3 separate regions of the Homo sapiens genome follow, and all the other regions are linked to region 3. Evidence: fine-mapped expression QTL. A gene starts in region 3. Each other region holds a variant in brackets. All regions are shown on one strand. Distances are between the middles of the regions.

Evidence for each region. PIP is the estimated chance that this variant, and not a neighbour inherited with it, causes the effect. A credible set is the group of variants that fine-mapping cannot tell apart.
Region 1: its variant is the best candidate, but not a certain one, in a credible set for the expression of GASK1B in whole blood (INTERVAL, PIP 0.79).
Region 2: its variant is the best candidate, but not a certain one, in a credible set for the expression of GASK1B in whole blood (INTERVAL, PIP 0.68).

What each region holds. Positions count from the first base shown.
Region 1 is chr4:158,072,018-158,077,765 of GRCh38, reverse strand. No RefSeq gene overlaps it. Among named protein-coding and RNA genes, the nearest start is that of GASK1B-AS1, 96 kb to the left of the region's middle. The variant T/A (reference allele first, on the strand shown) is at 2,451.
Region 2 is chr4:157,944,261-157,950,008 of GRCh38, reverse strand. All of the region lies in intron 2 of LOC105377509 (a long non-coding RNA gene), which reads left to right. Among named protein-coding and RNA genes, the nearest start is that of GASK1B-AS1, 220 kb to the left of the region's middle. The variant T/A (reference allele first, on the strand shown) is at 3,092.
Region 3 is chr4:158,170,551-158,176,298 of GRCh38, reverse strand. GASK1B (golgi associated kinase 1B) reads left to right here and starts at 3,274. Exons shown (of 5, transcript NM_001128424.2): 1 at 3,274-3,431; 2 at 4,700-5,748. The coding sequence starts at 4,924. It overlaps GASK1B-AS1 (GASK1B antisense RNA 1), which reads right to left and starts at 5,547. Exons shown (of 5, transcript NR_147410.1): 1 at 4,819-5,547. LOC101928007 (a long non-coding RNA gene) reads left to right here. Exons shown (of 4, transcript XR_007058350.1): 3 at 2,033-2,185; 4 at 2,491-2,611. RefSeq lists enhancers at 3,898-5,097, 5,271-5,748.

The DNA of each region.
Region 1 (5,748 bases), 99 kb after region 3:
GTCTCAAATTGATGACCTCAGCTTCTATATTAAGATATTAGAGGCTGGGCGTGGTGGCTTACGCCTGTAATCCCAGCACTTTGGGAGGCCGAAACAGGCGGATCACGAGGTCAGGAAATCGAGACCATCCTGGCTAACATGGTGACATCCGTCTCTACTAAAAATACAAAAAATTAACCGGGCGTGGTGGCGGGCGCCTGTAGTCCCAGCTACTCGGGAGGCTGAGGCAGGAGAATGGCGTGAACCCGGGAGGCGGAGCTTGCAGTGAGCCGAGATCGCGCCAGTGCACTCCAGCCCGGGAGACAGAGCCAGACGCCGCCTCACACACAAAAAAAGACATTAGAAAAAGAAGAACAAATTAAGCCCAAAGTAAGAAAAGAAATAATAAAGACCAAAGTGGGTATCAATGAAATAAAGACAATAAAATGGAGAAAATCAATAAAAGTTGGTTTTCTGAGAAGTCTAATAAAATTGATGAAACTTTAGCCATACTAATTAGGCAAAAAACAGAGAAGTCAGAAATCTCAGGAATGAAATGGTTGACTTCACTGAGTATCCAATAGCTATTAAAAGGATAGAAAGGAGATATTATGAAAAACTTTATACGTACAAATTTTAGAACTTTGATGAAATGAATGGATTATTTGACAGACACAAACTACTAACGCTCACTCAAGAAGACAAACTAAATAGCCCTATATCCATCAAAGTATTAGAATTTATAGCAATTTTTTTCCAACAAAGCAAACTGTAGGCCCAAATGGCTTCAATAATAAATTCCATTAATACTTAAGAAAAATATAAACTTACACAAACTCTTCCATGTAATTGAAAAGCAGCGAATATATCCTAACCCTTTCACTGAGGTCATCATTACTCTAATACAAATACAGGAAAGAAAAAAAATACAAGAAAAAGGCATTCCAATGAAAGAAAATTACAGAACATACCCTTTATTAACATAGACACAACATTTCTAAACAAAGTGTTAGCAAATTGAATCTAACAATATATAAAGAGAATAATACAAAATAATGAAGTGGTGTATATTGCAGGAATGCAGGATTTGCTTAATACCTGAAAATCAGTCAATGTAATCACTGTATTAAAAACTAAAAACTACCAAAAAAGCCATATAATCATCTAAATAAATACATGAACTTAACAGTATTCATCATCCATTCCTGGTAAAAACTATCAGTAAACTAGGAATAGAAGAGAACTTCCTACACTGATAAACTATTTTCTCCTAAGATCAAGAATAAAAAAAGAATGTTTGTTCCTACCAATTCTATCCAATACTGTATGGAAAATTGTGGCCAGTGCATTAGCAAGAAAAAAAAAAAGACATTCAAATTGGAAAAGAAATAAAACTGTCTTTATTAGCAGATGCTATTATTATCTGTGTAGGAAGTCCAATGGAATCTACAAAAAAAAAAAAGACTATAACTAATAAATTTAGCAAGGTTGCAGAAAGTAAGGTCAGTAGTCAACAATAATTTATTGTATTTCTATACTAGCAATAAATAATCATAAATTGATAAAAAAGTGCCATTCACAGTAGCCTCAAAAAGTAAAATACAAAGGACATGAAAGATTCATTTACTGAAAACTACAAAGTATTGAGAAAAATTAAAGAAGACCTAAATAAATGGCAGTATATACCCCGCTACCTTATTTATGTGTCAGAACATTCAATATTGGTAAAATGTCAATTCTCCTTAAATTCATAAATAGATTAAATGGAATCCTAATCAAAATTCCAGTAAGATTTTTTTTTTTGTAGAAACTGAGAAGCTGATTCTAAAACTCATATAGGAATACAAAAGACTTAGAATAGCCAAAACAACTGAAAAAAGGGAACAAATTTGGAAGACTAATGCTATAATACCTAGTTTCAAAACCATTTATAAAGCTACAGAAATCAAAGAATTTCACACAGCCATAAAGATAGACAAACAGATCAATGGAAAAGAATAGTGTCCAGAAATAAACCCACACATATGTGGACAATCAATTTTTGAGGAAGGTGAAAAAATGAAAAAATTCCATGGAGAAAAGATAGCCTTTACAACTGATGTTGGCACAAGTGTATATCCATATGCAAAAACAAATACACAAAACCCCATATATTTTGGTTCATACTGTATTCAATTATATAAAGAAGTTAATTCAAAATGAATCACAGACCTAAGTGACAAATCTAACATGATAATAATTCTAGATGTAAATAGAGAGGATAATCTTGTATCTAATGTTAGGCAAAGAAATCCTAGATAGAACATACCAGCAAAAGCACAATCCGTGAAAGAATAATACAAGAAGATACAAGGACATGTATCTGGGATATGTAAAGAACTCTCAAAACTCAATAATAGTAAGAATGATAATAAAGGACCAACCCAATAAAAAGTAGGCAAAAGACTTGAAGATTTACAAATGGCAAAAAA[T/A]CACCTAAAAAGATGTTCACTTATTAATTATTAAGCAAATGCAAATTAAAACCACAATGAGAAGTCACTACAGACCATGCAAAAATGGCTAAAATTTAAAAACTGACCATACAAAGAGTATGGGCAAGAATGTGGAGGAACTGAATACCGGCATACTGATGGTGGGATTGTGAAATGATACTGCTACTTTGGAAAACAGTTTGACAGCATCTTTGAAAGTGACATGCAACTACCAGATGATCCAGCCGTGTAGTTCCTAGGTTTCTACCCAAGAAAATTACTCAAAGACTTGTACACAAATGTTCATAGCAGCTTGATTTGTAATAACCAGAAACTGGAAACAATCCACATGTCTATCAACATGTGAATGGGTAAACAAGTGGTGGTATATTCTTACAACGTAACACGACTGAGCGACAAAATGTAATGAACTATTAATACAAAGACCAAAATGGATGAATTTTAAGATAATTAGGATTAGGGGAAGAAACCAGACAGAAAATAAATACATACTTTATAATTCCATTTACATATAACTCTAGAGAGTGCATGCTAGTCCATAGTAACATAAAAGAAATTCGTGTTTACCTGAATAGGGGAGTATGAAAGAAATTACACATTTATGAGTGATGGAAACATACAGTATTTTGATGGTGGTGATAAGCTTCATGGGTTTATGCATATGTCACTCTGTATGGGCTGTGAGGATTAAATGCATGTAAGTATGTGCAGGAAAAATCTAAAAAATGTAAAAAAGTTTATACTTATTAAATATTAATAAAATATCTGAATTGAATTATTTCCCATATCAAAGTTTTTATAATTTTTCAACTACTTTTTTACAGATAGAACCTTTCTTCTCATCTTCAGTAGTTTTGTTTTTCATCCTCTGCCTTCCATGAGTTCTTTTGTTGACTTCTCTTTTTATAGTTATTCTAATAATGCGTTCATAATGCCATGGAGATCCACTTCTTTTGCTGCCATTGACTTTCTTTGTCAGTGAGGGCAGTAGGCAGTGTAATGGTTTCTGGATTTAAAAAATCAACCTAGTAAATACCTTTTGGATGAAGAAGTGTATTGCTAAACAGATGATCAGAACGTCTCTGCTTTCAACAAACTCTATTAAAGTGTCACATATGATTGATCAGCTTTTACATTAAGAAACCTAACATTTAGCATGTAATAAGTAACAATAGGATTAAACTCACTGTCCCCTTAATTAATAAAAATAATTCATAATAAGGAGATTCCTGATTACATTGGACGCTTTAGAATAATAACAGGGAAAATGTAGGCTATTTCATAATTCTAACCCTTGGAGTTTTTCATTTTCAGTGGCTAATGAAAGAGTGAAATAATCTACAAAATCCTATCTGCTCATAGATGGTGTAACTGGGACTCCTGTAAGGAAATATCAGAATTGTAGTCTTCTTAACTCACGCAGGGGTGTTAGAGGTGGGATGGAAAGTAGGGAGAACTGTGCAGTGGGTCAACTCAAAGAATCCAATCTTGGAGTTCTGCCTTTGCTTTCCAGTATAGAAAGGAGACACAGGCTGGAGAAATCTAAAGATGAGGCAGCATAATTATAGCAAGTCTCTCAGTTCGGAAGGGCTATGTTGGTGGCACAAAATAGCCCAGCAATTTTCTCTCCGCTAAATGAAAGAGAAGGGAAGTATAAAGAGCAGTAGTGATTATTTAATAAGGGTTAAGAGCAACTAGAGACAAATAGCATTTCATCATTGCCCTGTAATAATACTTTTTATTCCTTGTGTGTATAGACAAACATGTAAATAAAAAAGTTTACATATACATTTATTTTCATAAACTGTTTTTTAGAGATGTGTACATAAATAGCGTAGCAACAGCTTATGTTGATGTTTTTCAACCACAGCGGGTCATATTAAACCTGTTAGGGGAAGAGGGTGGAATCAACAATTTTCCTCAATACAGTCTACACTTTAAGAAATATAGAAGTATTACTTTGTATAGCAATTCATGATTGCTTCAATATGTGACTATGTGTGGTCTACTGCTTTAGAATATTGTGAGCCAGGCTTCCTGCCTTCCTTCTCTTTCTTTCTCTCTTTCTTTCTCTCTTTCTCCCCTTCCTCCCTTCCCTTCCCTTCCCTTCCCTCCCCTCCCCTCCCCTCCCCTCCTCTTTCTTTCTTTTCTTATTTTCTTTCTTTCTTTCTTTCTTTCTTTCTTTCTTTCTTTCTTTCTTTCTTTCTTTCTTTCTTTCTTTCTCTCTCTCTCTCTCTCTCTTTCTTTCTTTCTTTCCTTCTTTCTTTCTTTCTTCGACAGGGTCTCACTTTGTCACCCAGGCTGGAGTGCAGTGGTGCAATCACAGCTCACTGCAGCCTCAACTTCTCAGGCTTAAGTGATCCTTCTGCCTCAGCCTCCTGAGTAGCTGGGAATACAGGCGTGCACCACCACGCCTGGCTGGATTTTGTATTTTTTTTTTTTTTTTTTTGTAAAGACAGGGTTTTGCCATGTTGCCCAGACTGGTCTTGAATCCTGGGCTCAAGCAATCCACCTCCTCAGCCTTCCAAAGTGCTGGGATTACAGGCCTGAGCCACCACACCCTGAGTTATCATTTCCTTATCAATCACTTTTCTTATAGAATTGCTTGTAGTCATCTATAGTCTGAATTGTAACCACTGTTCTAGACAGTTTTGTCTGTTATATGGGTTAAGAACCTATAAAAACTGTTTCCATTTTGGGTTTTCTGTGTCACTATGGAAACTATCCATGAGTTAAGTGTTTGCGAATGATTTGTAGTCTTTGAGGAAGCAAACTTTGAATGAAATAAATCTCTTCATGACCCATTTTTTTTCAAAAGGGTTTTGTTTGTTTATAGTTTTTTACCTTCCTTTTTTTTTTTTTTTTAGAGACAGGGTTTCACTATGTTGCTGGGGCTGGACTCAAGCAATCCTCCTGCCTCAGCCTCCCAAGTAGCTGGGATTACAGACCCACACTACTGCATCTAGCCCCATTTTTTTTTTGTGTGTGTGAAAACTGTATAATTTTTTTCCCCTTAAAATTCAGTGTCCAGTTTTGTTCTTTTAGTTTTTGTTTCTTTCGTTTGGTTACTGATGTGCTTTCAATTTTTGCTTTATCTATCTCACTAACTCTTTGCAAATTCCTCTGCTTCCTCTTATGCAGTTATGTGACAGCATTGAACAGCTGTCACGGCCTGTCTCCGAAGTGACCATTCCTGATCTGACATTTATTCAGTCCAGAATTTCAAATAGACAAAGATCCTTTCAACATCATATGTGGCCAAGATGCTCCTCTTTTT
Region 2 (5,748 bases), 230 kb after region 3:
AGGTCTTAGCAGTAGGTGTCAATAAGTAAAAAGTCACAAGCTATAGTATGTGAAAGAGAATGAGAGTTTCCCTATGGGAGTCACTAAAATATAAAGGACATTTTAAGCTAATTATACATTAATTGGCAACTCATCAGCCTGAAAGGTGGGTTATATTCTGTGACTACCATCATCACAAGGATTCTTCTTTAAGAAACTTAATTGTTTCCACATTAGTAAATAAGTAATAGTATTTGTAGTCTTAGAATATTTGAAGCTGAGGTTACTATACTGAGCTAGAGGTTATAGTATCTTTTTTTTTTTTTTTTTTTTTTGAGACAAAGTTTTGCTCTGTCGCCCAGTCTGGAGTGCAGTGGCACGATCTCTGCTCACTGCAACCTCTGCCTCCAGGGTTCAAGTGTTTCTCCAGCCTCAGCCTCCCTAGTAGCTGGGACTACAGGCATGCACCACCGCGTCTGGGTAATTTTTGTATTTTTAGTAGAAACCGGGTTTCACCATGTTGTGGCCAGGGTGGTCTCGAACTCCTGACCTCAGGTGATCTCCCCGCCTCGGCCTCCCCAAAGTGCTGGGATTACAGGTGTGAGGCATTGCATTTAGGTAGTATCTAATTTCTATAATATATCCAGATTCTAGTATACTGGGAAAAGAAAACAACTAGAAATAGTAGTGTGCTAAGTATTTTTATTAGCATTTTAACCATAGAGAGCAAATCTTGAATCTTGCCAAGAGAATTTCAAAAACATCAGACCAATGTTAATTTAGTACAACAAACTGGAGGGAGAGTCAATAGATAACTTATTTATAAATTGGTGTAATTAGAGGATGCTTTCTAGACTTAAGTGAATACCCATATAATAAAGAGTCTGACTTCAAATATATTTTAATATAGTTATTGATATATTTTGCTTTTAGTCCTCCTCACCTCATAGAATAACTTTTTTCTTATATTTTGAACTCAGCTCATAACTTTCTTTAGAAGGCATATTCCTCAATTAAGAAAGATGTGTCATATGACTGGCTACATAATTTTATTAATGTTGGTGTAACATTAATAAACTATAGAAATATTTGGAACAAAATGTTATATTATGTTGACAATGTACCCTTGTGCCTGTTTGAAGTGCCATTTATATCATTACATTTAGTTGGAAATTAATTAGTTTATTATACAATTTAAAATATCTTAATATTTTTAGGAGACAGTTTTATTAGCATGGTTAAGTATCTATAGCATCCAATGTAACCACATTAGAGAAAGAAAAGGTAACAGATGATGAGCAAACAGCTGGGAAGGAAACAAGAGGGCCCAGACTGCCTTAGTTTTAGTTGAGAAGAAAATATGTTTCAGTAAAATTCAGTGCTAGGGAGGCATTTACAATAATTCATTATGGCCCCAACAGTTTATCTTCAGGAAGAGAGTAGAGGTATGTGAGATGAAGTGATAAGAAAAAAGTTGAGTCAGGATTTTTTTCCCAACATATTTAAAAACTGTGGAAATTCCCTCCACATCCAATTTTGTGTCATCAAGAACAGAAATTAAAGAAGGCTTGATTTATTATCTAGTCTCCGAATACACAGTACCTTCCAGATGACAGAAAAGAACTATTAATCAGGTTCAGAAGATTAAATCAACATTCTTGGTAATAGAACATAGTGTGAAATTTTTGTGTTATCAGATTTGTGCAATCACATTAAGGGCTTTGAGATGCCATATAAAATCGTATTTTTTTCTGAATTGTCAAATATAAACTAACTAAAAAACTCTTAAGATGATTTTCTAAATTGTGTGTACTCTACAAGTGACAATCAACTGGTATTTCTGAGAACAGGAAAATAAATCAAGTTGATCCAGGTAACATGAATGAAATTAAATTCATATGGTATTCTTGGATCATTTAGAAATGACTTTTCTTTTATATTTTTAAAAATATAAAAATTTTTATATTTTTAAATTTTAAAAACAATTTTAAAATTTTAAAAAGAAATGACTGTTATTTTTTTAAAATAGAAATATATATAACATGGAAGAGAAATTAGAATTTAAAAAATCTCATATTAAAGTCTATACATGTTTATAATAATAATATGTAGCATAATACCATTTGCATCATCTAGCAATTTATTATAGATGTGTTTTTTCTTATTGATTGGCTGCTAAGGTATCCCCCAACACACTCTCAGCAAATCTATCAGGGAAAGGAGGCATTTTTAGATATCTCCTTAACCAATTCATTTGTACTTATAAATAACAAAAAACAAACTTGACCACCTTAAATTAGTTCATCATCAAATTGCATTCCCTTTCCTTGAAAAAAAATATGATATATACATTTTTCTTTTTTGGTCTTGGCCAATGCCTGTCTGAATGAGTGCAGGGATTTTCTTATTGGACCCATTACCTCAACCACCACCTCACTAAGGCAAATCCTCATCAACATTAAGATCTTGAGCTGAGTGCCAGAAAAAGTGTCTTATTATCTCACAGACTTTCTTGAAGATTATCATTTTTATTGCCTTCCATCCTTTTTAAAATAATTTTTCTGAGAAGCAGAGTATTTTGTTTTTCAGATATTTAAATAGAAATTTGAAGACCACTTTAAAACTCATAAGAAACGAATAAAATCTATCAACTATTAGTTATTTAGTTTGGATTTATTCCATGCAATAAATAAATCAACTGACTTTAAAAAATACAAGCAAAAACATTACTATGCTTGGTGTTACCCCACCCTAAGTCTGTAGAACTTGGGCTAGTCCCACATAGAGAAACCAGTCACCAACATAATTTTCTTTCCTTTTGAAGGCCTCTTTAAAGAGATGATAATGCTCCTGCTTTCCTGACTAATGCGTAGACCTGAGCTCAGTGCTTGAGGAGAAAATCATCTCTTATATTCTCACTCAGTCACCTCAGGCTGTCTTCTTTTCTATTGTTTGCCTTGATTCATCTTACCCCCATGTATAAACCTGTCTCTTGAATCCACTGCTGTACAGCTGTCCATACTCTTAATTATTCTAACTCTGGGTTTTCTCAACTAGGCCTTCCACATTTGCAGAGCTAAGTAAATTTGTTTTCTAATCATAGGAAATCAAA[T/A]GATCCTGCTTCATGTAGATATGGCCTATGAATATAAATACCTAAAATTTTACCTCTGACAGACATGTTTTGGATATCCAGGTGTTTATTTAGTTCTCATTTCATATGAGAACCCCGAGTGCCATTACATGAAAGAGCACTTTCAAATTGTAAATTTTAAATGCAGCCACAGGAATGAGAAGAATGAAAATGTCATTACCTTAGAAGTAGTGAGCACAAAGTAACAATAGTCAGGTTAATTAAAACCCAGTCAAAATAAAGGAACACTGGAAGGACACCTCAGAAACTAAGAACAGTGTTTACCTAATGAGGTGTGGGGATGGGAACTCCTCAGAAATGGGAAAGGATGGCGGAAGAAACGTTTTATCATGGAGCTGATTATATCTTCTGGACTTGGATCTATAGGAATGTATTGGCTATTCAAATAATTAAAAATTAGTAAAGCAATACATGGACTGTTTAACAAGACCCGATCTTCTGTTTTCTTACACTGTTCTTTCTATTTGCAATTACAATGTTGTGAAACAATGGCGTGGCAGTTTCTGTGCTGCACCATGGTGGAAATGAGACTACTCTAGGTCACAGCCTTAGCTCTGTTAAAAAGGCGGTGACTTTCCTACAACTGGGAGGAGATGCTGGCTGGTGGGATGTAGCAGCCTTGAGTCAGGGCAGTGACAGTAGAAAGTGAAGAAAATGGGGAAATGTCTCTGTTTAATGGCTGTGAATTCTAGAGAGACATGAGGAAACCAATAAAGTTTTGTCTCATGCTATACACAGAAGATTCTAGGACTTGTATCATAAATGTTGAACCCACTCTCTCAACTGACCTCCACAAGGCACTGTGAACACTCCTACTCTTTCTTGAATGCTTTTAAACAAGTCTGTGTTAATGGGCCAAGTCTGGCCTGCCATCTATTTTTATAAATAAGCTTGTATTGTAACTCAATCAAGTTCATTTGTTTACATGTTGTCTATGACCACTTTTGCACTAAAGTGGAAGAATTGAGTAATTGCAATAGAGACTATATGGCTCACAAAACCTAAAATATTAATATCTGTCTCTTAACAAATAAAAATTTGCCCATCTCTGCTCTGAAAGAATGTAAGTTTTTCTACACAGTGTGACATCACTGGGCAGTTAATGTCATAAACTTACTGGACACAGGCATTTTTCAGTAGGTTTCCACTCCTCATAGTCTGGAGATGGTGTTCCACACACAAGAAGAAAGAAAGAAAGGAAAGAAGAGAGGGAGGGAAAAAGGTAGAGAAGAAGGAAGAGAACAGAAGAGTGATACGTTGATCTAGATTACCATAGAAACAGTCTCTGAGATGGAGATTTGCTTGCAGAAAATGCTTTGAGGAATGCCCTCAACACTACAGAGAGAGAGAGAGGAGTGGGATTAGGGAGAGGCAGAAGTTAAACTGTAATGCATGGCCTGCATTCCTGCCACCATGGCTTCTCCATGGTACTCCCATTGTGCCAGCATTGGAATTTCAATGGCACAGGGAGAGTGATGTGAACTAGCCCTGGTCACTCTGTTTACTGGGTTGTTTAATGCCCCTTCAATGGTAGATGCATTTTGGGGGGATGATATGAGATCTTTATACTTCATGTCCACCTGTTTAAGGCCATCCTCACGCATCATTCATCCTTGCCTTGATATTCTACTCTTTTTCTTTCAGGCACCTATCCAGTAGCCAAGCCATTAAGCACTACCTTTGAGCCATATGTTTATCCTGCAGGCTATTTTTCTTTCTACAAAGTGGATGACTAGGTTACATGATCAAGGCTATGTACATTGGGAAGATTTACTTTTGCTGTTGTCGTTCACCTGGGGAGGGGGCCATAGCATAGTGAAGCCACAGTCCATTTTTGATTGGTACTCCCATGTCAAGCCGTGATGTCATTAATATAGTGGACCAACATAATATTCTGAAGAATGTACAAATATGTTAATGAATGTGTTTCCATATATATATATATTTTACTGATAGAATGTTTTCTGAAATATTTGTAAAATATGTAAGAAATTATAAAAAATGACTTTTGTTCTGTTTGAAAATATTTTTTGTAGTTTAGTTGCAATTCACAAAAATAAAAATAATTGTATAGAGTCTGCTACAGGTTGATTGTTTATTCCATCCAAAACTCATGTTGAAACTTAATCCTCAATGTGACAGTATTGAGAGAGGTGGGGCCTTTAAGAGGTGATTGGGTCATGAGAGCTCTGCCTTCATAAATGAATTAATCTATTCATGGGTTACTAGGTTACTGGATTAATGGGTTAATGAATTAATAAGTTATCATGGGAGTGGGACTGGTGGCTTTATAAGACAAGGAAGAGAAATTTGAGCTAGAACTCTCAGCCCCCACACCATGTGATACCTGTGTTGCCCCTGGACTCTGCAGAGTCACCACCAGTAAAAAGGTCCTCACCAGATGCAGCCCCTCAACCTGGAACTTCTCAGCCTTTAAGCCATAAGAAATTCTTTATTTTCTTTACAAATTACCCAATTTCATGTATTATGTTATAAGCAACAGAAAATGGACTAGGAGGAGTCTACTGACTCCAGTAGGAACTGTAGTTAGCAGTACCATCCTTAGACTCTGCCACAGAGATCCCTTCCATGAACCCCACATTTTAGAGGTTCATTGA
Region 3 (5,748 bases):
AATGGGGGAAATGAGAGTGCTGTGGGTGGAAGAATGAGGCCCGATTCACTATCTAATCTGGTCCAGGAGTTGTCCCAGACTGAAGGCAAATAGCCTTTACCAAACTAGGATCTTACTATTGGAAGCCTTGAAGGATTTACGGATTACTTCATTGCCAGTGAAACCTAAGACATCATTTAATTGTAAAAAGGTGTTAACTTGCTCCTAGAACTAAGTATTTAACTCATAGTACAGTGAATTATAACTCTGCACATTAGAAGCTTTTAAAACTGTGGATTCCTGGGCCCTACTTTAGATCATTTAGAATCTCTGGGAAGATGGATGGGGTCTAGACACTCATATATTTTTAAAATTTTCAGGGATTTTACTGTTCTTTAATATTTAAACTTAATTTTTAAATGACTGAAGTAATATGCGTTTTTTATTGTAAACAAATTATTTGTTCTACTCTCCTATGTAGATTTATAACATATATACAAGGTATAAAGAATATAAAATAAATAGCTATTTATGTACCACCTTTTCCAATTTGATTGAAGGATAAGATATATATAAATATGGAAAAGTACAGAAATCACAAATGTATAGTCAATGTGTTATCCCAAAATAAACATACTTAGGTAAATCCCATCTAAATGAAGAAACAGAACATTCCCACAATCCTGCTTTGCTCATGTTTTTTCTCCATCACCATCCTTGCCCCTCCATAAAGATATAAAAAGTCCTCAGGTAATTCCGATGGTCCCTACCATTATCTTACTGTCTACTTTTTCACTTTATTTCTCTCATTGTTTTTTAAGAAGAGAAAGTACTTTAGGCATGAGAATTATTTGTCTCTCTGATCTAATAATATTAATAATAATGAATACTTTGAGTTCTATATGTTCACTCACAGATTATATTGTAAGTTATACACGAATGTTATATTGTGGCAACAAATTTTCAAGCTAACGCTTGTTCAAGGAATTTAGCCTTATTTTTCTAAAACTAAATTAAACTTCTCTGTTTCCCATGCTACCTGATGGCAAAAAACACCTTTCCATTCAGTTTCAACAGAGACCATGAGCAATTGATGGCAATTGCTTCCACATTCGAAAATGAGATATGGATCCGCAGTGCTAAGGGAGGTGGGTTGCTGCATTGGGAAGTCTGAGGTTGCTGGAGCAAATGATGGTGACCATGTCCACTGGATCACTTGTGGGGCAGTACACAGAGGCCCAAGTTAGAAAACCAGCCTGCAGGTCAGCTTAAATGCTGCCTAAGAGAACAGCCTGGAGAGATGAGGTGATCTCAACAGAACAGGGGGCTACCAAGTTCCAAGGGACTAAGGGGCCATCAACAGCCAGCTAGAGAGATGCTTTGATAGTGGTGTCTTTGAATTAACTATCTCAGAGTCAGCTTTACACACCTGCCAAACCTGGAGAGCTTATAAGTCAATTTGCAGCAGTATCAATGGAGTAGCAAGGCCATTTCTGCTATTATTGCTTCTCTCTCTCCACTACCTTGGAACAGCCAGAGCCAGGCTCAAAGTGGGGTGAGCGGCTGGGTGAGTGGTTAAGGAATAAGAGCTCTAGGCAGGAACAAAAAAGAATGTAAGATGGGTCTCCTCTGTCCCTTTTCAGTAGATTTTGGCTATGCTTTTTGAGGGACTGCTATCTTCTGGAGAAATTCTGGGAATTTAAAAGAAATTTTTAAAGAAATTGACTGTGATATAGAATCAAACATATTAATTAGTTTATGTGTATTATGTGTCTGTATGTCTATGGCTAACAACTGGAGAACTTTTACAAAAATTTAAGTATGACTGGAAAAGTCATGGGGACTGCCTGAGTTTCCATTTAAGAAAGTTGAAAAGAGATATCAGGCCACAGAACAGGTTTCAATGGGCAGTGGGGGGAATCACTAAAATTGTGCTCTGATTATATCTGACAAGCCCCATTTATCCACTGTATTGGCTATATCAATATGTTGGCTACAAATAATTCAGTGTGCTTGTCCTCAATTCTACCATGATTGCTTTGCTGTGGTGCAGTGGTGACTATCTGTCAAGGCCTGGGCTGAGGAGAGAGGCCTCTGAGCAGTTTAATGAGGCATCATGGGGGATAAAAACAAACACATTGCTGAATATTTCAAATGATCATTCCAAGGCTGCTATCTCATTCAGTCATCAGAAGAAACCGATAGGGTAAGTGCTATTATTTTTCTTTTCTTACACATGGGGGAAACTGAGGCTTAGAGAGGTAAGATTACTTGCCACAGGGGACCACACGTAAGAGGTAAATGAGGAGAATTTAAAGCCAGTCTGCCTCCCTCTTCAGCCCATTCTCTGAATATCATAGTTCAGAGTAGATAGTGTAGCCTCCACGAATCCCTATTGTGGCTATAGCAGGGGACAGTGTATTGTTCTTTTTCTAGGAGACATTTTTGGAGTGGGGGTGGGAAGGTAGTCAACGAAATTTACTAACTCACACAACTCTCCCTATCTCGTAGGCATTTCTCCATGAAAAAAATAGCTCTAAAAACAGCTAGAGGAGATGTCTGCTTATTATAACTGGCCTCTGCCAAAGGCTTACTTTTAATTGTTATAGAGCCAGGTCAGTTATTCCTTTGACTGTGGAAATAATAAGATGGTTATAAAATGCAGCTTTGGTATGGTTTCCTTGCAAGAAGTTCACATTTTCTATCAAGAAAATAATTCTGTGTGTATGGAAGTGTGTGCCTAAGAGTTTTTGAGTGCAGATAAAATTGTTTTGATGCCTGAATTCTCACAAAGTTTAGCCAAAATATCCAGGTACTTCCAGGCTACTGTCAATATTGGGATTGCTCCTTCTCATTCCTCCATGTGGCAGGACTTTTAAAGAGGAAAAAAGGACTGAGTTTAGAGTGCTGAAATAACAGCCCGATTATAATTTTTGTCAATTTACCACTTGGACGTTTATTCTCTCCTTCCCTATATATTCCAACTCCTTGCTCTTTTTGCATTGTAAAATATAGTATTTTTAGGATTATACACCATATGCTAATCTTTTACCCACTCTTCAGTATCACAACTTTCTTTCTCTGTGGGGAGGAAAAATCCCTGTCCCCTTTCTGTCTTCTTGCCTTTTGATTCTATTTGCCATAGTCTAATTGACACCCCAAGGTCATCAGCCCCTGCCTTTGTGCTAGGACACGCAAACCACCCAGGCCAATCCCTAACCTGTTTTTTCAAAAAACCTCCAATCAGAGAGAATCCACGACTTCCTTTTGTGAACTGTTGCACCGTGCAATTGCACACTATAAATGTCTTTCCTTATCTGTGTGTACTCTTATCTCACTGTTCTATTTTTTCTCCTCATTTATATTAACTCTTTCTTACCTTTTTTTCTGAACTTCTAGGCCTTCTCTTTCCAGAACTGGTGGAAGACAAATGAAACGGCCAAGATGGTAAGGTGAGTAGTTCCTGGGAACGCTTGTGCTCTAACCCCAAGTTATGTGGGATGGACACTCGAGGGGTGATGGCATTCCTCATTTTACAAGTTACTTGCTTGGCTGCGGCTGCTCCACCAAGATAGCAAACATTCTCGATCTTTTGAACTTCATGAGACTGACATTTCTGAGTCTGTTTGCGAACAGGACACTAGAGGGCTCCCAGGGGTTAAAAATAAGTGGAAATTTATTTGAATGAAAACTGATTCTCTACGGCATTTCTTTTTTCCGAATTTAAAATTAAAGTTTATTTTGTTAACTATTGTTTTTAAAAGCTTTGTATCTCTTAAAACCATGCAGCAGTCAGTTTCCAAGTTTTGCTTTGCAATCAGTAGTTTTCAAGGGAGCTTTTAAAGCTGAACTGAAATGTTTGAAATGTGGAACACTCTTGACCATGAAATATGTTCTACTTACATGCCTCAGCCTTTAAAAGTTCTTTGCATTAGAGTCAAGGATTACATTCTTCCTGGAGCCAAGCATGGGGCCAGCTGTGTAAGTAAGGTTGCTTACGAGTTTCTTCTTTTTCTTTTTAATAGTGAAAAAACAGAACTAGAGATGCTTTTATTTTCTTTCAGCTGACTTCGGTGGAAAGAAAAGAAATAAAAAGCAGTCAGAGTTGTGTTGTGTTGTGTGTGTGTATGTGTGTGAGAGAGAGAGAAAGAGAGAGAGAGAGAGAAACAGAATAAATGCAACTGCTTCCAAGATATATGGACATTTATGGCTTTGTATTATACTAACAATGTAAGCTAATGGAACATATTATTAATATGAAGTACAATTTGTACCTTTAGACTAAGAGAATATGTTTCTAAATTTTATTGTTAATACTTGCTGCTTGTACTTAGTTAATTCAGGACTTTAAAAAATAAAAATGGTATAGGTATAGAGTATTAAAAAATTATCTATTACTTGTCTTAAGTTCTTTCTGAATTTCAAAAAGGAAAAGCCCAGGTTTGTCACATTTTAACGCTTTTGCTTCAGAGTCAACTTAAATGACTCTAGGTACAAGTTATAAAACACTCTTGGATTTTTGTGGCTTGTTTTCACTACTTTCAAGTGACTATCAAATCTATACATCTATCTCGTTTGCATGCTTTTAAATTTTATTTTTAAAAACATTTAGTGGTGATATTTATGAAAGGAAATGATTACTTTTTTTCTTGACTCTTGTAGAGGAACTTAAATGGTTTGAAATTGTGACTCAGTTAACTCTGTATCCATTCATTCCCAGAAACAAGCCGCATTTCTCCTTGGGGAGACTGATAATTTAAAAGGTTTGTTGTGTCAGAAACATTCCCAGCTTCATCACCAACCCTTTCCTTCCACCTCTGCCCACTGGAGACCACTTATATCCCGAAGCGGACGCGGCAGCTGAAGTCAGGAAACCATGCATCACATTAGCAGGAGCCAACTGCAGACTTTAAACTCCGTTCAACATGTGGATGCGGCAGAGAAATGACCTGTCCAGACAAGCCGGGGCAGCTCATAAACTGGTTCATCTGCTCCCTGTGCGTCCCGCGGGTGCGTAAGCTCTGGAGCAGCCGGCGTCCAAGGACCCGGAGAAACCTTCTGCTGGGCACTGCGTGTGCCATCTACTTGGGCTTCCTGGTGAGCCAGGTGGGGAGGGCCTCTCTCCAGCATGGACAGGCGGCTGAGAAGGGGCCACATCGCAGCCGCGACACCGCCGAGCCATCCTTCCCTGAGATACCCCTGGATGGTACCCTGGCCCCTCCAGAGTCCCAGGGCAATGGGTCCACTCTGCAGCCCAATGTGGTGTACATTACCCTACGCTCCAAGCGCAGCAAGCCGGCCAATATCCGTGGCACCGTGAAGCCCAAGCGCAGGAAAAAGCATGCAGTGGCATCGGCTGCCCCAGGGCAGGAGGCTTTGGTCGGACCATCCCTTCAGCCGCAGGAAGCGGCAAGGGAAGCTGATGCTGTAGCACCTGGGTACGCTCAGGGAGCAAACCTGGTTAAGATTGGAGAGCGACCCTGGAGGTTGGTGCGGGGTCCGGGAGTGCGAGCCGGGGGCCCAGACTTCCTGCAGCCCAGCTCCAGGGAGAGCAACATTAGGATCTACAGCGAGAGCGCCCCCTCCTGGCTGAGCAAAGATGACATCCGAAGAATGCGACTCTTGGCGGACAGCGCAGTGGCAGGGCTCCGGCCTGTGTCCTCTAGGAGCGGAGCCCGTTTGCTGGTGCTGGAGGGGGGCGCACCTGGCGCTGTGCTCCGCTGTGGCCCTAGCCCCTGTGGGCTTCTCAAGCAGCCCTTGGACATGAGT